2 separate regions of the Homo sapiens genome follow, and region 2 is linked to region 1. Evidence: fine-mapped expression QTL. A gene starts in region 1. The other region holds a variant in brackets. All regions are shown on one strand. Distances are from middle to middle.

What was found. PIP is the estimated chance that this variant, and not a neighbour inherited with it, causes the effect.
Region 2: its variant is fine-mapped to the expression of SCIMP in testis (GTEx, PIP 0.94).

What each region holds. Positions count from the first base shown.
Region 1 is chr17:5,229,644-5,241,953 of GRCh38, forward strand. SCIMP (SLP adaptor and CSK interacting membrane protein) reads right to left here and starts at 5,217. Exons shown (of 5, transcript NM_207103.3): 1 at 5,092-5,217. The coding sequence starts at 5,112. It overlaps ZNF594-DT (ZNF594 divergent transcript), which reads left to right. Exons shown (of 6, transcript NR_152840.1): 6 at 5,471-6,360. RefSeq lists enhancers at 5,459-5,658, 7,604-7,903, 12,138-12,310.
Region 2 is chr17:5,207,099-5,219,408 of GRCh38, forward strand. It overlaps SCIMP (SLP adaptor and CSK interacting membrane protein), which reads right to left. Exons shown (of 5, transcript NM_207103.3): 4 at 7,827-7,900; 5 at 1,822-3,857. The coding sequence ends at 3,703. ZNF594-DT (ZNF594 divergent transcript) reads left to right here. Exons shown (of 6, transcript NR_152840.1): 2 at 2,652-2,797; 3 at 6,952-7,111; 4 at 8,049-8,195. Among named protein-coding and RNA genes, the nearest start is that of ZNF594-DT, 21 kb to the left of the region's middle. RefSeq lists a silencer at 1,331-1,510. The variant A/C (reference allele first, on the strand shown) is at 5,986.

The sequences.
Region 1 (12,310 bases):
CCTTGGCCTCCCAAAGTGCTGGGATTACAGGCATGAGCCACTGCGTCCGGCGTATTTAGCATTTTTAAAAGAAGATCTTCAGTAAGAAATATGGTTTACGTTGTGATAGTTATTCACGTATTCACATAAATGAAGCGCTGAAGGGCCCTAGGCTGGCCATCAAGGGAACAAGTTCCCCTCCCCTCCCCTTCCCCCATCTCCTTTCTCCCCTCTTCTCCTTTCTCCTCTCTGCTCCTCTCCTCTCCACTCCTCTCCTCTCCGGTCCTCTCCTCTCTCCTTTCTCCTCTCCTCTTCTCTCCTTTCTTCTCTCCTCTCCTTTTTCTCCTCTCCTTTCCCTTCTTTTCCTTTTTGTAGAGACAAAAAAATGTTGTAGACACACAAAAAATGTTGCCTAGGCTGGTTTCAAACTCTGGGCCCCAAGTGATCCTCCGCCCCAGCCTCCCAAAGTACCAGGATTACAGGCATGAGCCACTGCACCTGGCCAGAGGGAATAGGTTTCCTGTTCCCACTTAGCTGTTGCACTTGGAATAAGATGCTTAACGTCTCCTTGCAGGCTTCTGAAAAGCTTCCAAGAGATGTTGCATGCAAAAGAGCTCTGTGTGCAGAAGATCACCAAGCATGAGGCATTATTAAGGGCAAACCAACCAAGTTCTATTTACAATAGCAAGTGTCTTCTAAGAAGGGCAGCTACCGACCAGGAGAGTCCCCTATTCTCCCTGCAGAGGATCTGCAGATCTGCAAAGCTGGCTGGGTTAGGAATGAAGTTTGCTGGTAGGAACTGGGGAATGTTGAATTCCTCTGGGTTATAGAAGGGGAGAATTTGGAGTTCTGGGAGGGAAGGTGATGAGAAGAAGGGATGGAAAGATGAAAAGGGAAGCCAGCAGGATGGTGCAAAGGTGGGAGTGAACCCGAGGGCTAGATTAGGCCTGCAGAACTTAACCTACCTTACTTGATTTTAGTCACTTGCTTCTAGTTGATCTTAAAACCTATATAGCTACTGGGGGCAGTGGCTCACACTTGTAATCCCAGCACTTTGGGAGGCCGAGGCTGGAGGATCACTTGAGCCCAGGAGTTCAAGACCAGCCTAGGCAACACAGCGAGACTTTCTCTCTACTGAAAATAAAAACAAAACAAAACAAAACAAAACAAAACCAGATGTGGCGGCATGTGCCTGTAGTCCCAGATACTCAGGAGGCTGAGGTGGGAGGATGGCTTGACTCTAGGAGATTGAGGCTGCAGTGAGCTGTGATTACCATCAGTGCACTCTAGCCTGGGTTATAGAGTGAGACCCTGTCTTTAAAAAAGAAAAAAGCCTATAGAGCTAAAAGTCATGTAGCTAAGCAATATTTAACTGGACTTCCACTAGCTTCCTGCTGGATAACATCTCTGACATATAGGTCATCATAGTAATGGTTGTTTAAGTTGTTTTTCAAGGGCTGGGCACGGTGGCTCACGCCTGTAATCCCAGCACTTTGGGAGGCCAAGGTAGGCAGATCACCTGAAGTCAGGAGTTCGAGACCAGCCTGGCCAAGATGGTGAAACCCCGTCTCTACTAAAAATACAGAAATTAGCCTGGTGTGGTGGCAGGCGCCTGTAATCCCAGCCACTCGGAAGGCTGAGGGAGAATCATTTGAACCCAGGAGGTAGAGGTTGCAGTGAGCCTCCAGGATCACGCCATTGCACTCCAGCCTGAGTGACGAGAGTGAAACTCCATCTCAAAAAAAAAAAAAGAAAAGAAAAAAAGTTGTTTTTCAGGAACTTGGGGTCAGCTCTTATCCAGTTCAAGCCACTTATGACCATCAATCCTTCAACTTGGTCTGTGTGAGTGTCCAGTAGGTGACGTTTGATGTCAGAGCGCCAAAAACTCCATCTTCCATCATGCTAATGCCACCATTTTGTGAACCTGCATCCTATGAAGAACGATGAAGCTTGACTAGGCTTGCACAGATTGCCGATGTCCTACTTTTCCCTCCAATCACCTTCCCCACACCTTAGGCCACCTGCTTCTTTGTCCCATAAACGTCTCTAAACCCCATCTTCGAGGAAGTGGGTTTGAGACCTGTTTTCCCATCTCCTCACTTGGCTGCCTCATGAATAAATGCATTCTGTGCTGCAAAACTGGTCATCTTGGCGGGACGCGGTGGCTCACGCCTGTAATCCCAGCACTTTGGGAGGCTGAGGCGGGCGGATCACGAGGTCAGGAGATCAAGACCATCCTGGCTAACACAATGAAACCCTGTCTCTACTTAAAAAATACAAAAAATTAGCCAGGCATGGTGGCAGGCGCCTGTAGTCCCAGCTACTCGGGAGGCTGAGGCAGGAGAATGGCGTGAACCCGGGAGGCGGAGCTTGCAGTGAGCCGAGATTGCGCCACTGCACTCCAGCCTGGGCGACAGAGCGAGACTCCGTCTCAAAAACAAAAAAAAAAAACTGGTCACCTCAGTGATTGGCTTACTGTGCGATGAGCAGAATGGGCCTCATTTGGTATCAAGAGGAGGAGCTGATAGAAAATGCTCAGGGATGGGCTGGCAAAGACATTTTCAGAGCAGCGCCGTGTTATGTTCTGTGTGCAGTTGTTTGCGCTGATGCGTTACAAGCCCCTCTGGTGGTCCCCCGCTGAGTCTTTGGTAAAGTCTGCTGCATCTGCCAATTCTTTTGTGAGCAGATTTGTTCTAGGGGTGTGGGGGACTAAGAAAGGGGTGGAATATAAACAGTGCAGTGTAAACAGTGCAGTATAAACAGTGCAGTATAAACAGTATAAACAGTGCAAACAGTGCAGTGTAAACAGCGCAGTGTAAACAGTTTTACCCACAGAGGCTGCAGGCCCATTGCTGACCATGGAAAAAGAGGTGGGCTCCTCGGGAGTCCACAGAAGTCCTGGGGAGGGCTTTGGACTTCGGCAGGCCTGGAATGAGGGTTCGAACTAATCTCAGTCTAGATCTCGAGGGTCTGAGAGGCTGTAGAGAACATTTAGGCCGGTTGGCATGAGCAGTTCTTGCCCCAGTTCACCTCTAATTCCCCGACTGTTGCTGTTCATGCTAAGTGAGGCCTTGTTCCCACTCGTTCTTCTTCTTTTTTTTTTTTTGAGATGGCGTCTTGCTCTGTCACCCAGGCTAGACTCCACTGGTGCAATCTCAGCTCACTGCAACCTCTACTTCCTGGTTCAAGCTATTCTCCTGTGTCAGCCTCCTGAGTAGCTGGGATTACCGACACGCACCACCATACCCGGCTAATTTTTGTGTATTTTTAGTAGAGATGGGGTTTTGCCATGTTGGCCTGGCTGGTCTCAAACTCCTGACCTCAAGTGATCCACCTGCCTCGGCCTCCCAAAGTGCTGGGATTACAGGCGTGAGCCACTGAGCCTCGCTCCACTTGTCCTTCTCACTGATGTCAGCACCAGAAATGGCCATGTGGATAGTCACTGGCAACTTAAAACCCAAGTGTGCATGGGGAAGTGCACGGCAGGGTCATTAAAAGGAGTCCAGCCTCTCTTCTTCCCTTCTCTATACTTTCACTTCTGGAAAAGACCGGAAACCTTGCCTCATTCCTCTTTCTCCCATGGCCCCATCCCCACCCCGCTTCAGCCCATCAGCCTCCAAATGTAGTCCAAGTCCTCATCTCTGTACCTGGACCATTGCATTTTCGCTGGCCCCTAGCCCCCACTGGGCTCCCCACTGGCTGCCAAATACCAGTGTGACCCTGTCCCTTCCTTGCTTTAAGCCTCTCAGTAGTTTGTTTGTTTGTTTTTGAGATGGAGTCTTGCTCTGTCACCAGGCTGGAGTGCAGTGACATAATCTTGGCTCACTGCAACCTCCACCTCCCGGGCTCAAACGATTCTCCTGCCTCAGCTTCCCGAGTAGCTGGGGCTATAGGCGCCCACCACCATGCCCAGCTAATTTTTGTATTTGTAGTAGAGACAGGGTTTCACCATGTTGGCCAGGCTGGTCTTGATCTCTTGACCTTGTGATCTGCCCACCTTGGCCTCCCAAAGTGCTGGGATTAGAGGCGTGAGCCACCATGCCCCGCCTGCCTCTCAGTAGTTATTTACCACTGAAGCAGAGTGAAGCCTGTGCTCCACATTGCTTCATGGCCAAGACCTCAGGGACAAGTGGACACACCAGGCAGTGGGAGTGGATATGGCAAAGCCAAACCCAGATCTCTTCTCAAAATAATTTTCCAGAGGGCAAAAGCAGATGGCTACACCGAGAACTCACGCCAGCCCAACACACTTTGATCTCGAGGCCTCTGGAAGGGAAGGTGCCTAATGAACTACTGAAAGCCAGAGATGCAATGACAAAGGTACCAAGACTGGAGGTGATCCAGGTCTTTCATCCAAGAGCCCCAAGACGTAGCCTAAATTCATGCTACGGTAATCCCAGCACTTTGGGAGGCCGAGGCGGGCGGATCACCTGAGGTCAGGAGTTCGAGAGCAGCCTGGCCAACATGGTGAAACTCCGTCTCTACTAAAAATACAGAAATTAGCCAGGTGTGGTGGCGGGTGCCTGTAATCCCAGCTACTCAGGAGGCTGAGGCAGGAGAATCGCTTGAACCCGGGAGGCGGTGGTTGCAGTGAGCCGAGATCACGTCACTGCACTCCAGCCTGGGCGACAAGAGCGAAACTCCATCTCAAAATAAAATAAAAATAAATAAATTGACACAGTCAGTGCCTCGCTCCCACCCCCACCTCCAGCATAGCACCATGACAGTCTTCTCACATAACAAGTCCCAAAACACACCATCGGCATCCAGAAAGTGAGAGTAACTCGTTACAGTTGAGACCTCTCACTCCCGGTCATTATCTCATTTCAATCCAAGAGGTAGACTTCTTCATCGCCCCTGACATACACATGAGGAAAAGGCCCAGAGAGGTGAAGTGATGCCTCAGGTCACTCAGCCAGTTACCAGTAGAGCAGATCCTTCAATGCAAGTTTTTCTCCAACCCTACACAGCAGTCGTACCAGGGCCCCAGGCTGCAATCCCCTGGCCCAGTGCTGATCGGTGGCTCCCAGGGACACGCCCTGATGCCAGCGCTGGCAGATGTCTGCTGTGAAGAGAGCAGGAAACTGTCCCTTGGAAAGCTGAGATGCTTACCTGAACTGTGAAAGTATCCATATGTGAGCAGCTAAGGAGACAGCAGTGGCTGGAGTGCTGCAGCTCAGGCACAGCTGGTGAGAGGCATTCCTCACTCACAGGCCTTCACCCACTGCTAGAGACAGTGAGCCCCATCCTGACCACTTCCCCTTTCTAGTCAGCCCACGGGGCAGAGACCCTGGCGTCATCTCTAGGCAACCATCCCTTTTCCAGGGAAGCTCATGACCCACGGCTGTCCAGAAGCCAGAATCTTCTCACTGCCCCGTGTCGCTCCCGCAAGGCCTACCAGAGGACCCTCATGGTGTGGTAGGGGGTCCTGGCAGGGGCCAGGGGCCAGGGTGGAGACTTGGCAGTGGGGGTGGGTTTGGTGTCCCCACAGACGAGTTTGCCGTGAGCATTCCTGGATGTGGCAACCTCAGTCTCAAGAAGAGCGACAGGACGCCAGCTCCCATGCAGAGACAGATCCAGGTAAGAAACCAGCTCATGTGTGACAAACTCACCATCTCACCATGAAGGTGACTCTTGAAAGCTCCTGTGCACCTTGGAACTGCTGAGACATCTTCTGCTTGGAGGAGGCAAGGGACAGGCTTCCTGTTTCTAAAGGCGTGTGAGTGGCGACCTTGAGAAATGTGGCCAGTGGAGCATTTTGACTGAGTTGGGTCCCCTCGTGCAATACTGTGAGACAGAACTCCCAGCGAGGCCCACGGCCTCTGACCATGGGGGTTGGAGTGGGGAAACCAATTAGCCATTTTGTTGAATTGGCTGGTTCTGACTCAAATGAGCAGTCACATTAGTAAAAATAGGCAAACGGATGTGCATTGTATTTGCCCAGAGCGAATGAGTTGTTATCCATTTCAGTAATAATGATAACCAGATATGTCTGATAAATATCTGATAATGTCTGATATATGTCTGGTAAATTTAACAAACACCGGGCTCTGGCTGGGTGCGGTGGCTCACACCTGTAATCCCAGCACTTTGGGAGGCCAAGGCGGGTGGATCACCTGAAGTCAGTAGTTCGAGACCAGCCTGGCCAACATGGTGAAACCCCATCTCTACTAAAAATACAAAAATTAGCTGGGCATTTTGGTGTGAACCGGTAGTCCCAGCTACTCAGGAGGCTGAGGCGGGAGAATTGCTTGGACCCGCGAGGTGGAGGTTGCAGTGAGCCAAGATCACACCATTGCGCTCCAGCCTGGGCAACAGAGCAAGACTCTATCTCAAACAAACAAAACAAAACATCTGGCTCAGAAGATTCCTGATTTGCAGTGTTTACTAATTTCTTTTTTCTTTTTCTTTCTTTCTTTCTTTTTTTTTTTTTTTTTTGAGATGCAGTCTCACTCTGTCGCCAGGCTGGAGTGCAGTGGCTCAATCTCAGCACACTGCAACCTCCGACTCCCAGGTTCAAGCAATTCTCCTGCCTCAGCCTCCCAAGTAGCTGGGACTACAGGTGTGTGCCACCGCATCCGGCTAATCTTTGTATTTTTAGTAGAGACAGGGTTTCACCATGTTGGCCAGGCTGGTCTCGAACTCCTGACCTCAAGTGATCCACCTGCCTCGGCCTCCCAAAGTGCTGGGATTACAGAGTTGAGCCACTGCACCTGGCCAAGGCCTGAACTCTTTCTTCTTAGGCTCATCCAAAGTTTAGCTGCTAAAAAACCTTCCTAAAAGCCAATTTAAAATTTTCTTCTAGGCCGGGCACAGTGGCTCACGCCTGAAATCCCAGCACTTTGGGAGGCCAAGGCAGGCGGATCATGAGGTCAGGCGTTTGAGACCAGCCTGGCCAACATGGTGAAATCCCGTCTCTACTAAAAATACAAAAATTAGCCAGGCATGGTGGCAGGTGCCTGTAGTCCCAGCTACTTGGGAGGCTGAGGCAGAAGAATCGCTTGAACCTGGGAGGCGGAGGTTGCAGTGAGCCGAGATCGAGCCACTGCACTCCAGCCGGGGTGACAGAGCAACACTCCGTCTCAAAAAAAAAAAAAAAAAAAATTCTCTTCTGAGGGGTGAATAAATGCTTCTGTGGATAGAGCTCATCCTAGGCTAACAAAGCTGTGACTTCTTGGTTTGTGTTTCATTCATTCATTCAATAAATTACTCAATAAATTATTTTGCTAACCTTTAAGGACCTCAGTTCAGCTGTGATATAGTAAACTCTGTAGCCCTACTATTTCTAACAATGCCTTTTGCACAGCAAGTTCAAGCCTGAGGTGTCAGGTGATCAGAATTCCAGGCCCGGTTTGACAAAACTTTCTTTGTGAATCCTTCCCTTCTCTGAGCCTCAGTTTCCTTGTTGTAAAATGAAAGAATTCAATTGACAAATATGAAAGTGCTCCAGGGATTTTGCCATCTGCCTTCAAGAAAGTCCCGCAAAGTGTAGGAGGAAGTTGAAGCCATAATATGATGCAGGCTAAATACAATGACCTTCAATTTGTGCCAGACCCTGTGCTCAACAAGTAGAGACTCAGAACTGGGCAAGTCATTCATGGGTAGAGCACATGGCACATGTTCTACAGGACAGAAGGCACATAAGTTATTACTATGCAAAGTGATGAATGCTAGTGCTGTGGAAGCACAAAAGTGGGAGAGAAGAAAGGGTCTGAGTGGTAGCATTTGAACTGGGCCTTGAAGGATGTGTAGGAGCTCACCAAATGGACAGAATGTGGACAGACACAAAGCAGCCATAGTATTTGGAGAGAAAGAGATGGTTGCATGGCTGATCAAGAGTGAATGTGTTGGGCAGTCAGAGGCTTGAGAGCAAAGTTTAGGGACACACACCACGGCATCTGGATCTACCCACTTCCTTGCTATCTACATTCTTCCCCGACTCCACCATTTGTCTTTCCACCACAAGAGGAGGGCAGGAAGTTGGGGCGGTTGTGTTCTTTCTGCACATCTGAAATGCCACCTGCTGGTCTGGGCAACTAAAGAGGTCCCTGAGGGCCCTAGATTAGCGGCTGGACCAGAGGGTGTCAAGGAGAATGAAGGGCACCCTCTAGTGGTCACCTGTGGTGCTTTCTCCTCAGGATTCTGGTCCCTCTGACCTCCCCGTAGGGATGGCTGGACACACAAGATGTTCACCTCTTAAAGCTACAGAGACCATCAGGCTAGAGGACACTCAGAAGGGATTCCAGTCCACCCTTCATCTCATGACTCAACCTTTTTGTCAACATCCGGGTGGCACCCAGCTTCTGCCGTTTTGTTTCTTCTCACTCAGTCATCTAAGTCATGTGTAAAATGAGGTGTTATTCTTTGTGCCACTCACAAGTGTCAATTAATCCCCATCATGAGAAAAAAACTGAAGAAAGAGAAATCATAAGATACAACATATAATTAGAACATTAATAGATTTTATTGCAGTTTTTAAAAAGGTGGGGGTTTTTGTTTGTTTTTGTTTTTGTTTTTGAGACAGAGTTTCGCCCTTATTGCCCAGACTGGAGTGCAATGGCGCGATCTTGGCTCACTGCAACCTCCACCTCCTGGGTTCAAGCAATTCTCCTGCCTCAGCCTCCAGAGTAGCTGGGATTACAGGCATGCGCCACCATGCCCTGCTAATTTCGTACTTTTAGTAGAGATGGGGTTTCTCCATGTTGGTTAGGTGGCTGGTCTTGAACTCCTAACATCAGGTGATCTGTCCACTTCAGCCTCCCAAAGTCCTGGGATTACAGGCATCAGCCACCACTCCGGGCACAATAACTCATCTTTAAAGAGCTCTGAGAGCAATATGGGTGGCCAAAGCACTCAGGTGGAACCAGAAGTCATCACTAAGCAACCGTGGCTGCTTTGTTTGTCCCTAACAATAGCCAAGCAGATGTTGTAGCTCCTCTGTCTCCCACCCTGGCCCCATGACATTGAGGTGGGGTCGTTCCAGCTCAGATGTAAAAAGGCAAGTGTATAAGTATTTGGGGTTGTGGCAGGAGGCAGCCGTGTCTTGTGTATGAAGGGAGTCCCTGCCCACTTCTCCCCATTTCTGGAGGTAAAGATTCCCATGAAAGGTACTAGGAGCATTGGGCCCCTAAACCCCAGAACCCATGAGTATGTTATTTTAGATGGTGAAAGGGATTTTGCAGATATGACTAAGGATTTTGAAGTGGGGAAGTCATGCAGGATTATCGACATGGACCCCATGTAATCACAAGATCCTTCTGAGAGGGATACAGGAGAGTCAGGGTCAGTGGCAGGGGATGTGCTGGCAGAGGCAAGAGACTGGGGAGATCCGAAGAAGGGGTCTCGAGCCAAGAAATGCAGGCAGTCTCAAGGAGCTGGTAATGGCTGGGCAATGGATTTTCCCCTGGGACAGGGATGGAGAGACAGCAGTGATTTCAGTTCTCACTCTTGAACCTTCTCTCTTCTTCGTTCCCAAACATGAGTCCACCAGCCCCATTACCACTCAACTGACTGGGAGCCACATCAACCATAACTCTTATGATTTACCAGTTGTAATACTTAAGCATTTTCTGTGGCCTGGCAATTTATTTATTTATTCATTTATTTTTGAGACGGTCTCACCCTGTCACTCAGGCTGGAGTGCAGTGGTGCAGTCGTGGCCCAACGCAGCCTCGAACTCCTGGGCTCAAGCGATCCTCTCACCTAAGCCTCCCAAGTAGCTGGGACCATAGGCATGCACCACCACACCTGGCTAATTTTTAAATTTTTTGTAGAGATGGGGGTCTCGCTATGTTTCCCAAGCTGGTCTCAAACTCCTGGCCTCAAGAGATTTTACCGCCTCGGCCTCCCGAAATGCTGGGATTACAGACATGAGCCACTGTGCCTGGCCTGGCAATTTAACCCAACTCAGTCATCTCTCCTCTGGACACTCTCCCCATGACATACTTTGCAATGGTTTTAAAATATGCTCATACATTTTTTTGACACTCCTCCCATTGAGCTGTGGGAATCTATGTCCCCTCTACTCAAAAGTGGGCTGACGTTAGTGACTCACTTATAACACTGACTGTAGGGGAAGGAAAGCTGCTTAACTTTTGAGGATAAAAAATTATGCAGCTTTGGGCGGGACGCGGTGGCTCACGCCTGTAATTCCAGCACTTTGGGAGGCCGAGGCGGGTGGATCATGAGGTCACGAGTTCAAGACCAACCTGGCCAGTGGAAGGTCCCCTGAATGGGCTACCCCATGGTCGAGCCATTGTGACCCCTGTGACCCACACGTTACAGGCCTCCTGGAGTCACAAAGCCTGGAGCAACAGGAGAACCACTAAAGAAGACGGAACAGCTAGTTCCTGCCTTAATGATTAACCGACCTTGCAACAGTCCACCTTGTGATATGTTCCTGCCCTTCCCCAACTAATCCATCCACCTTGTGATATGTTCCTGCCCTTCCCCAACTAATCCATCCACCTTGTGATATGTTCCTGCCCTTCCCCAACTAATCCATCCACCATTGTGACATGTTCCTGCCCTTCCCCAACTAATCCATCCACCATTGTGACATGTTCCTGCCCTTCCCCAACTAATCCATCCACCTTGTGATATGTTCCTGCCCTTCCCCAACTAATCCATCCACCTTGTGATTGTTCCTGCCCTTCCCCAACTAATCCATCCACCACTGTGATATGTTCCTGCCCTACCCTAACTAATCCATCCACCTTGTGATATGTTCCTGCCCTTCCCCCAACTAATCCATCCACCACTGTGATATGTTCCTGCCCTTCCCCAACTAATCCATCCACCTTGTGATATGTTCCTGCCCTTCCCCAACTAATCCATCCACCACTGTGATATGTTCCTGCCCTTCCCCAACTAATCCATCCACCTTGTGATATGTTCCTTCCCTACCCTAACTAATCCATCCACCTTGTGATATGTTCCTGCCCTTCCCCAACTAATCCATCCACCTTGTGGCATGTTCCTGCCCTTCCTCAACTAATCCATCCACCACTGTGACATGTTCCTGCCCTACCCTAACTAATCCATCCACCTTGTGATATGTTCCTGCCCTTCCCCAACTAATCCATCCACCTTGTGGCATGTTCCTGCCCTTCCTCAACTAATCCATCCACCACTGTGACATGTTCCTGCCCTACCCTAACTAATCCATCCACCTTGTGATATGTTCCTGCCCTTCCCCAACTAATCCATCCACCATTGTGACATGTTCCTGCCCTTCCCCAACTAATCCATCCACCATTGTGACATGTTCCTGCCCTTCCCCAACTAATCCATCCACCTTGTGATATGTTCCTGCCCTTCCCCAACTAATCCATCCACCTTGTGATTGTTCCTGCCCTTCCCCAACTAATCCATCCACCTTGTGACATGTTCCTGCCCTACCCTAACTAATCCATCCACCTTGTGACATGTTCCTGCCCTACCCTAACTAATCCATCCACCACTGTGACATGTTCCTGCCCTACCCTAACTAATCCATCCACCTTGTGATATGTTCCTTCCCTACCCTAACTAATCCATCCACCTTGTGATATGTTCCTGCCCTTCCCCAACTAATCCATCCACCACTGTGACATGTTCCTGCCCTACCCTAACTAATCCATCCACCTTGTGATATGTTCCTTCCCTACCCTAATTAATCCATCCACCTTGTGATATGTTCCTGCCCTTCCCCAACTAATCCATCCACCTTGTGATATCGTGCCTTATGACTTCCCCCACCTTGTGACTATGCACCTTGTAACATTCTTCCCCTGCCCAAAAAAACTGCCCCTAACTGTAACTTTCCACTACCTACCCCAAACCTATAGAACCAGTTCCACTCCCACCACCCTTCGCTGACTCCTTTCTCTGACTCAGCCCACTTGCACCCAAGTGAATAAACAGCCTTGTTGCTCCACTAAGCCTGCTCAGGTGGTCTCTTATACGGAGGCGTGTAACAGCCAAGATGGTGAAACACTGTCTCTACTAAAAATACAAAAATTAGCCGGGCGCTGTGGCGGGCACCTGTAATCCCAGCTACTCGGGAGGCTGAGGCAGGGGAATCGCTTGAACCCAGGGGTGGAGGTTTCAGTGAGCCGAGATCAGGCCACTGCACTCCAGCCTGGGCAACAGAGTGAGACTCCATCTCAAAGAAAAAAAAAATTATGAAGTTTCCAGTTCGTCCTCTTAAGATTCCCACTCAGTGGGAGGGGGAAGCCAGCTACCACATAAGAAGTCCAGCTACTCTGAGACCCCGCCATGCTGGAGAAGCCATGCAGAGCCCTGGGTTGGCAGCCCCAGCTGAGCTACCTGGACACAACCCATGCCAGCC
Region 2 (12,310 bases), 23 kb before region 1:
ACAAAGGGAGAAGTATTTCCATAGGGCCAAGTATGGGAGCTGTGAGAGCTCAGAGTTCATTGATTCATTCATTCAACCCAGTTGATTATTCAACATATTTATTGAGCATCTACAATGTACCTGGGCACTGTGCTAGGAACAGGGAAAACAGTAGAGGAAAGAAGGACACATTCCCTGCCCTCATGTTGCTTTGGGTCTAGTGGAGGAGAGAGACAGATAAGCAATAATTATAACATGCTAATGCTATGAAAGGAGAGCATCCAGGAGGCACCAACCCAAGTTGGGTCATGAGGAAAGGGTAGCCAAGATGAAATGGGAAGGATCCAAAGGTGGGGAAGAATGTTTCATACAGAGGAATAGCGCTGTGCACAGGGCAAGAGGGACCATAGTGAAGGTCATTTTATTTTATTATTATTATTTTTTTTTTGAGATGGAGTCTTGCTCTGTCACCCAGGCTAGAGTGCAGTGGTGCAACCTAGGCTCACTGCAACCTCTGCCTCCCAGGTTCAGGTGATTCTCCTGCCTCAGCCTCCCGAGTAGCTGGGATTACAGGCATGTGCCACCACACCCGGCTGCGTTTTGTATTTTTAGTAGAGACGGGGTTTCACCATCTTGGCTAGGCTGGTCTCAAACTCCTGACCTCATGATTCACCCACCTCGGCCTCCCAAAGTGCTGGGATTACAGGTGTGAGCCACTGCGCCCGGCCTGTGAAGGTCATTTTAAGTGGCTGGAGCAAAAAACTTGGGCAGAGTGGAGGTTGCAAGGGGGTTGGGGGAGAAGAGTTTGGCAAAAGATAATCAGTGACCAGATCCTGACAAATCTTGTAAGCCATGTTAAAGAGTTTGGTCTTTTTCTGGGGTTAACGGGCAAAGAGAAGATTTAAGCAAAGGAATGAAGTGGTCAGATGTTCACTTTAGGAAGTCACTGGGTGCCATGTAGAAAGTGGACGGCAGGTGAGGTGCCAGAGGCAGGGGAGCAGTCAGGGGGCTGTTGATATTCTCCTGGCAAGCGCTGGCAATTGTCTGACCTCAGAACAGTGACGGAGAGACGTGGACTCATTGGAGAACCACGTGGGAGGCACAAGTAACATGGGGAGCTCTGGAAACAAAGCAGTGTGGGGAGAAGGATACTAGTTTCTGACTTCAGCAACTAAGAAGATAGTAGAGCACAAGACATTTGGGACTGGAGGTAGGTCATCAGTTCCTTTTGGTGTTTGCTGAACTTGAGGGGGTGTGTGGGGCAGTCACAACGAGATGTCTTAGAGGCAACCCAGCTGGGGAGAAAGAGCTCAGCTGAAGTCAGAATAGAGGGGGCAGCTGGGCGTGGTGGCTCACACTTGTAATCCCAGCACTTTGGGAGGCTGAGGCAAGCGGATCACTTGAGGTCAGGAGTTCAAGACCAGCCTGGCCAGCATGGTGAAACCCCGTCTCTACTAAAAACAAACAGAAAATTAGCCGGGTGCAGGCGTGTTGGCACACACCTGTAATCCCAGCTACTCAGGAGGCTGAGGCAGGAGAATCGCTTGAACTTGGGAGGGGGAGGTTGCAGTGAGCTGAGATTGTGCCACTACACTCCAGCGTGAGTGACAGAATGAGACTCAGTCTCAAAAAAAAAAAAAAGGAGGGGCCCACTGAGCTCATGGACATTGGTGAGATCACTCGTGAGTGTTGGAGGCAGATGGGCAGAGACACAGGGACAGAACCTGAGGAAGACCAGCATTGAAGAGATGCTTCAGAAAGAGTGGGTGGCCCCAAAATGAGACGGAGACAGGAGGAGAACCAGGAGAGGGTGGCGTCCCAGAAACCAAGGAAGAATCAACATTTGTCTGGCATTTGTTTTTAACTTTTGTCATAGTCATGGAGGGTTTACAGAACATTTATAAGACGAAAGCATGTGTTTGAAACACTCCAATCCTTTGGCTTATTTTTGTTCTATAATTTGGGAAGAGTCCTCTCTTTGGCTGGTGGGATACCAGAGTCCCATAAGGCCATAGTTAGATAACTACTGGCCTAACATAAGGAGGGTTTATTTATTTATTTATTTATTTATTTTTAGATGGAGTTTCACTCTTGTTGTCCAGGCTGGAGTGCAATGGCATGTTCTCGGCTCACCGCAACCTCCGCCTCCCAGTTTCAAGCGATTCTTCTGCCTCAGCCTCCCAAGTAGCTGGGATTACAGGCATGCGCGACCATGCCTGACTAATTTTGTATTTTTAGTAGAAATGGGGTTTCTCCATGTTGGTCAGGCTGGTCTCGAACTCCCGACCTCAGGTGATCCGCCCACCTTGGCCTCCCAAGGAGGTATTAATAGCAAGGTGGAAGCCTTCATAGAGTCTGGAAAGAGAGAACCAGGGAGGAAGCCCAGGTCCCCAGTGCTCCAGCGTTGATTGAGGGAGAAAGCTTGAAAATGGGAGGAACACATTTTCCCATCTCTTGAGGGAAATCTGAGTCACTCTCAGGCCTTTCCAGGTTCACAGTGCTCTCTCTGCAAGGCTGTTCATTTGCCAGATTTCCCAGAGGTCACTTAGAAACCAGCATCTTGTGAGTATAGTTAGAATGAGTCAAGTCCTAGGGCTCTGGCGATCAGCTAGAAGGAATTGATGAGGTCTAAGAGCCTATAAAGCTGACTCGGGCCTTGTTGACCCCATTAGGACACTTGTTTAACAAGACATCTGCCCATGTCCCTGGCCCATCTCATTGGCTGCAGCACATCACAGTGGACCTTCTGCCTCCTCCCAGATGCCCAGGGACAGTGATCTGGAAGGAAGGGGCTTGAGGCTGTTTTCCTAGAACTCGAGTAAGTACTGATGAAAATGATGGACAGGGGATATTAAGCCCCCTGAACTCTCATCTTGTATATGCCATTGTTACATGCCCCTTTTCTTTCCTGTTCCCCATGATTTGTCCTGGGGGAAATGTATTTTTCCTGTAGCACCCCCAACACACCTATTGCAAAATGATGCTTCTAGGTGTAAATCAGAAGGTAACTTTTGTCCTTTGTCCATTGTTACAGTACAACTTGCAAGCACGGGGAGAAAACCTAGGTGAAAACTCAAATCTCTATGGTCAATTTGGCCTACATCATATAAAGGCACTGGGGTTTGCAGGGTGTCTAGGTGGGGAGGGTTCACGAGAACAAAAGGTACTCCCTGCCCTTGCAAACTCGCGAGATGTGGTGTGGGAACCTGGGCACGAGAGCACTCAGCTGTAACTCACCCACAGCCTCACAGTGCAGGAGGTGGGTGGGGTGAGAGGGTAAAGACCAGCATGCTTGGTGAGGGCCTTGCTGGGGATGGGAGCCTGGGAGGGTCTGCACAACCAAATGCTGAGATTTAATATCACTCAGAACCATGCAAACCAAAGGGAATGAAGGGGGAAAGAATGCCAAGAAATGAGTAGTTTCCCACAGGTGGGAGCCATGGAGCCCCGTGGTCCTTCCCATGGAAAGTTTCCTCAACAGCACAAGGCTGACCCCTCTAAGTCCTCAGAGCCGAGCACCCATGTGTCTCCTCTGGCTGCAGTCATCCGATCGCAGGGGTGTCTTCATCTAAGGTTTGGGAAGTGCTTTATCTTATAGAGCTTCATAAAATCACCACTGGCTTTCAGGGCCCAGAGACCTACTGAAGTTCAACCATTCTTGATTGTTTTAAAATAAGTTGTGTGAACCCTCTTCAGTTTTGCCAAAAAGAAGAAATGGCTGTTTCAAAATGATGCTTTTTCAGTATTTGCAGGGATTTCAACATCGTCATAGTCATCTTCAGGCTCAATGTAGCTTGGGATGGAAACAGTCTTCTTATTTTTAACTTTATTTACCAGTGAGTATGTAGCGGGCGGCTGACTTGGGGCTTCCTGTGGGGCTAGAATACACAAAAAGCTCCTTAGATGCAAAGCTGTCATGTGTTTTTATATTTTTGAAGGCAGTGGCTCAGCGTGATTTTCACGTTTCAGTGATCTTCCCACTTCTAGTGGGCCAGATCCCCATTTTACAGAGGAAATTTAGACACAGACCTGACAGAGCCTCAGGATCACCCAAGTGAGTAACTGGAAAATATTAGTCAGACATCTTGACTCCCGTATCTTTCTGCCTAAGCCTGCACTGCATGGAAACCATGAAGCAAAAGCTTAGAAAAGAAACAGACCAGGTCAGGTGCAGAAGCTCACACCTGTAGTCCCAGTACTCTGGGAGGCCCAGGTGGGAGGATCACTTGAGCCCAGGAGTTCCAGACCAGCTTGGGCAACACAGGGAGACCCTCGTCCCTACAGAAAAATTTAAAAATTAGCCGGATGTGGTGGTGCATGCCTATAGTCCCAGCTAATTGGGAGGCTGAGGCAAGAGGATTTCCTGAGCCCAGGAGGTTAAGGCTACAACGAGCCATGATCACGCCACTGCACTTCAGCCTGGACAACATGGTAAGACCCTGTCTCCAAAAAAAAAAAAAGAATGGATGAAAAGAAACAGACCAGAGCCCAGTAGTCATATGAGTGCTGTTGTGTTACAGATCCTAATTTTTACAAGGAAGTGAAACAAATCATATTTCCTTTTTGGCACATCCCTTCCAGTGACTTACACTGTTTTCCAGGACTCTCTGTAATTGCTTATGTACAAATCTCTCTAAGAAGAAAGGGGATGGCGTTGTTTTCAAAAGGTGGAATTAGTACAGAACAGGTTCATAGGAGGCTGGGGCGCGGTGGCTTATGCCTGTAATCCCAGCACTTTGGGAGGCTGAAGTGGGCAGATCACCTGAGGTCGGGAGTTCGAGACCAGCCTGATGAAACTCTGTCTCTACAAAAATACAAAAATTAGCTGGGCGTGATGGCGGGTGCCTATAATCCCAGCAACTCGGGAGGTTGAGACAGGAGAATTGCTTGAACCCAGGTGGCAGAGGTTGCAGTGAGCCAAGATTGCACCATTGCACTCTAGCCTGGGCAACAGAGCGAGACTCTGTCTCAAAAAAAAAGAAAGAAAGAAAGAAAAAGAAACAAAAAACAAACAAAAAGAACAGGTCCATAAGTAATAGAAGGATGATGAAACAGCTCAGCTCCATCTTTGATGGGGATTGGAACTGCCTCTCCCACAATCTCATCTTTTCCTAAGAAAACCTGAAATGCCACTATTTGCAGAACTCTGCAGTTTGACAGACCAGAGTTCATGTTCACGTTCCAGCAGTCATTAGCTGTGTGACTATAGGTAAGTCACTTATCTGTGCCTGAGCATCCTCATCTGTCACAGAGGAATAAAAATGTACCTGGCTTGGGCCGGGCGCGGTGGCTCACGCCTGTAATCCCAGCACTTTGGGAGGCTGAGGTGGGTGGATCACGAGGTCAGGAGATCGAGATCATCCTTGCTAACATGGTGAAACCCCATCTCTACTAAAAATACAAAAAATTAGCCAGGCATGGTGGCAGGCACCTGTAGTCCCAGCTACCCAGGAGGCTGAGGCAGGACAATGGCATGAACTCGGGAGGTGGAGCTTGCAGTGAGCCGAGATTGCGCCACTGCACTCCAGCCTGGGCGACAGACCGAGACTCCATCTCAAAAAACAAACAAACAAAAAAATGTACCTGGCTTGTAGAGTTGTGAGGAGTGAATGAGCTAATACCTGTAAAGTGCTTAGTGTGGGACCTGAAACACAGCGCATGCTCAATAAATGTTAGCTAATATTATTTATCTATCCAATCAAAATATTTTTCTTAAGTATCGACTGAGCCTCACGCCCTGTTCTAGGTAGTGGATAAATATTAATAGTGGTGGACAAAAAAGGTTCCTGTGTTCCTGAAGTTTATACTCCAGTGGAGGAGATCAATAATACATAAATGAACAATAAGTAAATAACACAATTTTGGATAACTGTCAGTTTCATAAAGGAAATTAGCAGAACTACTTTAGGTTGAGTGGACAGAGAGGGCCTCTTTGAGGTGGTAACTTCTGAGCTGACATCTGAAGGATGAGGAAAATCCAGCGAGGCAAAGAGCTTAAGGAAGAAC[A/C]TTCCAGTCAAAGGAACCAGGCAGAGTTTTTCTGATAGGAAGTGAAAGGCCTAGTGACACCCCATGTTTCTTTCTGTTTATGTTCCAAGCTGGGATTTGAACATGAATTTACACCCTTATATCAGGCTATTGGGTGCGTCGGTACTTATGCTGCCCCCTTTTTGCTTTTCCATCCCTTTTTTTTTTTTTTTTGAGACAGGGTCTCACTCTGTCGTCCAGGTGCAGTGATGCTATCGTGGCTCACTGCAGACCTCCCAGGCTCAAGCGATCCCCCCACCTCAGCCTTCCAAGTAGCTGGGACTATAAGTGTGCACCATCACGCTGGCTAATTTTTGTAAAGATAGGATTTTGCCATGTTGCCCAGGCTGTTCTCAGACTCCTGAGCTCAAGTCATCAGCCCGCCCTGGCCTTCCAAAGTGTTGGTATTACAAGCATATGCCACTGTGCCTGGCCTCTGGCTATCTCTTTTAAACAGGATGCTGGCTGTGTGTGGTGGCTCATGCCTGTAATCCCAGCACCTTGGGAGGTCGAGGCGGGTGGATCACTTGAGGTCAGGAGTTCAAGACGAGCCTGGTCAATATGGTGAAACCCCGTCTCTACTAAACATACAAAAAATTAGCTGAGTGTGGTGGTGCACGCCTATAATCCCAGTTACTCAGGAGGCTGAGGCAGGAAAATAGCTTGGACCTAGGAAGTGGAGATTGCAGTGAGCTGAAATCATGCCACTGCACTCCAGCCTGGGTGAGAAACCAAGACTCTGCCTCAAAAATAAAATAATCAGGATGCTGCATCTATAAATCCTAGTGTTACAGACTGAATGTTTGTGTCCCCCCAAAATTCAGGTGTTCAAGCCTTAACCCCCAGTGAGGCTATATGTGGCCATAGGGATGAGGCCTTGATCCAACAGGATCAGTGTCCTTGTAAGAAGAAACACCAGAAATCTGACTCCCTGATGCTCTTCCCCAGCTTGAATGCACCAAGGAAAGGCCATTTGTGGGGACATAGCAAGAAGGCAGCTGTCTGCAAGCCAGGAGGAGAACCCTCACCAGAAACCTCACAGAAATCGGCCAACACCCTCATCTCGGGCTTCCAGCTTCAGAACAACGAGAAAACAAATTTCTGTTGTGTAAGCACCCCAGTCTATGGTATTTTTGTTACAGCAGCCTGAGCTATCTAAGACACCTTCATAGGGGACGGGCGTGGTGTCTCACACCTGTAATCCCAGCACTTCGGGAGGCCGAGGTGGACAGATCATGAGGTCAGGAAATTTAGACCATCCTGGCTAACATGGTGAAACCCCGTCTCTACTAAAAATACAAAAAATTAGCCAGGCGTGGTGGTGGGCACCTGTAGTCCCAGCTACTCAGGAGGCTGAGGTGGGAGAATGGTGTGAACCTGGGAGGCGGAGCTTGCAGTGAGTGGAGATCGCGCCACTGCACTCCAGCCTGGGGGACAGAGCGAGACTCCATCTCAAAAACAAAAAAAAGTGGCTCACGCTTATAATCCCAGCACTTTGGGAGGCCGAGGCCGGTGGATCACGAGGTCAGGAGATCGAGACCATCCTGGCTAACGCGGTGAAACTCCTTCTCTACTAAAAATACAAAAAATTAGCTGGGCGTGGTGGCGGGTGCCTGTAGTCCCAGCTACTCCGGAGGCTGAGGTAGGAGAATGGCATGAACCCGGGAGGCGGAGCTTGCAGTGAGCCGAGATCGTGCCATTGCACTCCAGCCTGGGTGACAGAGCAAGACTCCATCTAAAAAAAAAAAAAAAAAAAAAAAAGACACCTTGATAAACTCGTTATCTTACCCTAAATGAAACTGCTACCAGTAAAATATACTTACAAGAGTCTTCTAGAGAAGGCCAATTCCTCGGTGGCAGAGGCGGTAATTGAACTGGCGACTCATTAAGAACATTCCTAGAGAGAGAGAAAGAGAGAGAATCAGTGTTTGGTTTGGGCCATGCCTGCTCCCAGCCGATTTAAGAGAAAACATCAAGGAAAGTGAATGGGTTGAACATTCAAATCTTGGTCTCTACTAATTGGAAGCATTTCCTTTCCTTTGTAGGTCCTGGTTCCCATTTGTAATTGGCACCCTAATGAAACCGTTTTCTGTAGCCCTGGAAATGGCTGAAAATGAGGGGAGGGAAATAAAGTGCTATAATTCAGAGCATGGAGCACACCTTCCTGGTTCACCTGAGCTGGATTCGGAGAGGTAGGCACCAGATGTATTTCTATTTGCAAAACAGATGAGCCGGGCATGGTGGCGCATGCCTGTAATCCCAGCACTTTGGGAGGCCGAGGCAGGCGGATCACCTGAGGTCAGGAGTTCAAGACCAGCCTGGCCAATATGGTGAAACCCTGTCTCTACTTAAAAATACAAAAATCAGCTGGGCATGATGATGCTCACCTGTAATCCCACCTATTCGGGAGGCTGAGGCAGGGGAATCACTTGAACTTCGGAGGCGGAGGTTGCAGTGAGCCGAGATCATGCTACTGCACTCCAGCCTAGGCAACAGAGTGAGACTCTGTCTCAAAACAAACAAATAAAAAAACAAAAAACAAAAGCAGATGAACTCCTAAAGCAGAATGTACACACACCTTGAGTCAGCATTTCCACTACTGGGTCTACAGACTATTGAAATGCTCGCATCTGTTCACCAAAACATGCATTAGAATGTTCAGAGCAACACTATTCATAACAGCTCTGAATTGGACACGACCTGTATTAGTCTGGGTTGTCCAGAGAAGCACAGACACATAAAATTTGCCATCACACAACTCAAATGTCCATCAGCAGTAGAATGGATAGATTAATTATGGTAAAGTGACTGGGCAAGGTGGCTGACATTGGTAATCCCAGCACTTTGGGAGGCGAAAGAGGGAGGATGGCTTGAGCCCAGGGGTTTAAGGGTAATATAGGGAGACCCTGGGCAACACAGGGAGACCCAGTCTCTACAAAAAAATCAACATAATTAGCAGGTTGTGGTGGCATACACCTGTAGTCCCAGCTACTCAGGAGACTGAAGCAAGAGGATCACTTGAGCCCAAAATTTGAGGTGACAGTGAGCTATGATTGCACCACTGTACTCCAACCTGGTTGAGAGTGAGACCTTGTCTCAAAATAAATAAATAAATAAATAAATACTGGTGTACTCCCACGGTGGAATGTTCTATAGCAACAAGAATGAACAATCTACAACTACACACAATGAATCTCATAAAAATGATGTTGAGCAAAAAAGCCAAACACCAAATAATATATACTATATGATGCCATTAATAGATTGCATAAAAACCAAAAAGCTGCTGGGCACGGTGGCTCATGCCTGTAATTCCAGCACTTTGGGAGGCCAAGGCAGGCAGATCATGAGGTCAGGAGATCGAGACTAGCCTGGCCAACATGATGAAACCCAGTCTCTACTAAAAATACAAAAATTAGCCAGGTGTGGTGGCGCATGCCTATAATCCCAGCTACTCAGGAGGCTGAGGCAGAAGAATTGCTTGAATCTGGGAGGCGGAGGTTACAGAGAGCCAAGATCGCGCCACTGCACTCCAGCCTGGGCAACAGAGTGAGACTCCATCTCAAAAACAAAAAAACAAAAAACAAAAAAAACCCAAAAAGCTAATTTATACTATCACAGACAGTGATTGCCTTTGGGATGTAATGGTTGAAAGGCTGTATAAAGTCAGCCTCTGAAGTGCTGGTAACGTCCTATTTCTTGATCTGGGTGCCAGTGACCTGGGTCTGTTGAGTTCGTGGAAATTCATCAGGTTGCACACTCAGTATTTCCATTTTCCTGTATTTATATGATACTTTGGTACAAAGTTTTAACTAAAAGATAAACTCTAAGAAAACTTCCTTACTTGGGCCTCCATCCCCCTAGGTACACTGATTTGACTCCTATATGCTATAAAGTCCCCCTGAGAATGAATAAACATTTTTAGGTTGTTAGGTTGAGTGCAGACGGGGACATGGGGGTAGAGCTCCACCGGCGGCTCTCACCATCCCTCTGTAGCTCTTCCTAAGAGAAGAAAGCAACTCATCTGACTGCTAAATTTGGGAAAAGTCTAGCTCCTCTCACTTTCTCCTCCAGAGCTGGCCTGACTGCAGAATTCACAAATCCTGCTCTGGTCTTTGCCATTCAGAAAAAGGGGTCTACTCGGTGGGGGAGACCTGAGGTTTTCCGGAGCTGCCTGTGAACTGGTTAGGAAAGTCACCCGGTTCCAAATTAGGAAACTCACTAGCTCACAGAAAAGAGCCACATTCTGCAATCCCAGTTTTATTCTTTTTTGTTTGCTTGTGTGTGTGTGTGTGTGTGTGTGTGTGTGTTTGTTTTATTATTATTATACTTTAAGTTTTAGGGTACATGTGCACAACGTGCAGGTTTGTTACATGTGTATACGTGTGCCATGTTGATGTGCTGCACCCATTAACTCGTCATTTAGCATTAGGTATATCTCCTAATGCTATCCCTCCCCCCTCCCCCCACCCCACAACAGTCCCCGGTGTGTGATGTTCCCCTTCCTGTGTCCATGTGTTCTCATTGTTCAATTCCCACCTATGAGTGAGAACATGCGGTGTTTGTTTTTTTGTCCCTGCGATAGTTTGCTGAGAATGATGGTTTCCAGTTTCATCCATGTCCCTACAAAGGACATGAACTCATCATTTTTTATGGCTGCATAGTATTCCATGGTGTATGTGTGCCACATTTTCTTAATCCATTCTATCGTTGTTGGACATTTAGGTTGGTTCCAAGTCTTTGCTATTGTGAATAGTGCTGCTATAAACATACGTGTGCCTGTGTCTTTATAGCAGCATGATTTATAGTCCTTTGGGTATATACCCAGTAATGGGATGGCTGGGTCAAATGGTATTTCTAGTTCTAGATCCCTGAGGAATCGCCACACTGACTTCCACAATGGTTGAACTAGTTTACCGTCCCACCAACATTTTTTTTTTTTGAGACAGGGTCTCACTTTGACACCCAGGCTGGAGTTCAGTGGCACGATCACAGCTCACTGCTGCCCTGACCTCAGGGGTTCAAGCAATCCTCCCACCTCAGCCTCCCAAGTAGCTGGGACTACAGGCAGACACCACCACACCTGGCTAATTTTGGTATTTTTCTCAGATATGGGTCCCCACTATGTTGCCCAGGCTGGTTTCAAACTCCTGGCCTCAAGCCATCCTCCCACTTGGGCCTCCCAAGTGCTGGGATTATAGGCATGAACCACTGCCCCTGGCCAATACCAGTTTTAGTTTTTTGCTTTTTTTTTTTTGAGACTGAGTTTCACTCGTCACCCAGGCTGGAGTGCAGTGGCACGATCTTGGATCACTGCAACCTCCACCTCCTGGGTTCAAGCAATTCTCCTGCCTTAGCCTCCCAAGTAGCTGGGATTACAGGCACACACCACCATGCCCAGCTAATTTCTGTATTTTTAGTAGAGACAGGGTTTCACCATGTTGGCCAGACTGGTCTCGAACTCCTGACCTCAGGTGATCTGCCTGCATCGGCCTCCCAAAGTCTGGGATTACAGGTGTGAGCTGCTGCACCTGGCCCCAGTTTTATTCTTAAAAAAGGCAATATTTAGTCACCTGACTGCCTGACACATTTGTCTTATTCTTGAAAGGGATCAGAATTGATGGAGGCAGGGGGAGTCTTATTTGCTGGATCCCTGAAGCTACAACAAAAGCCATTTTAGAAAAGCAGAGATTTAAAAATGTTTTGTATACAGGGTCTCACTATGTTGTCCAGGCTGGTCTTGAACTCCTGGCCTCAAGTGATACTCCCACTTTGGCAAAGTGCTGAGATTACAGGCATGAGCCACTGCACCTCGCCCCAAGTGTAAGTTTTGTTTTAGATAGTGTGTATACTCCAAAGAAAGGACTGGCTCTTGACTGGCTCCTGGGAAATAATCTCTAAACCCTTGGAATATTCTTCCTAATAAGAGTGTCTCCGGCCGGGCGTGGTGGCTCACGCCTGTAATCCCAGCACTTTGGGAGGCCGAGATGGGCAGATCACGAGGTTAGGAGTTCGAGACCAGCCTGGCCAACATAGCGAAACCCCGTCTCTACTAAAAATACAAAAAATTAGCCAGGTGTGGTGGCGCGCGCCTGTAATCCCAGCTATTCAGGAGACTGAGGCAGGAGAATCACTTGAACCTGGGAGGCAGACGTTGTGGTGAGCCGAGATCGCGCTATTGCACTCCAGCCTGGGTGACAGAGCGAGACTCTGTCTCAACAACAACAAAAAAAGTGTCTTTGAGGCCGGGCATGGTGGCTCACACTTGTAATCCGAGCACTTTGGGAGGCCAAGGTGGGTGGATCAC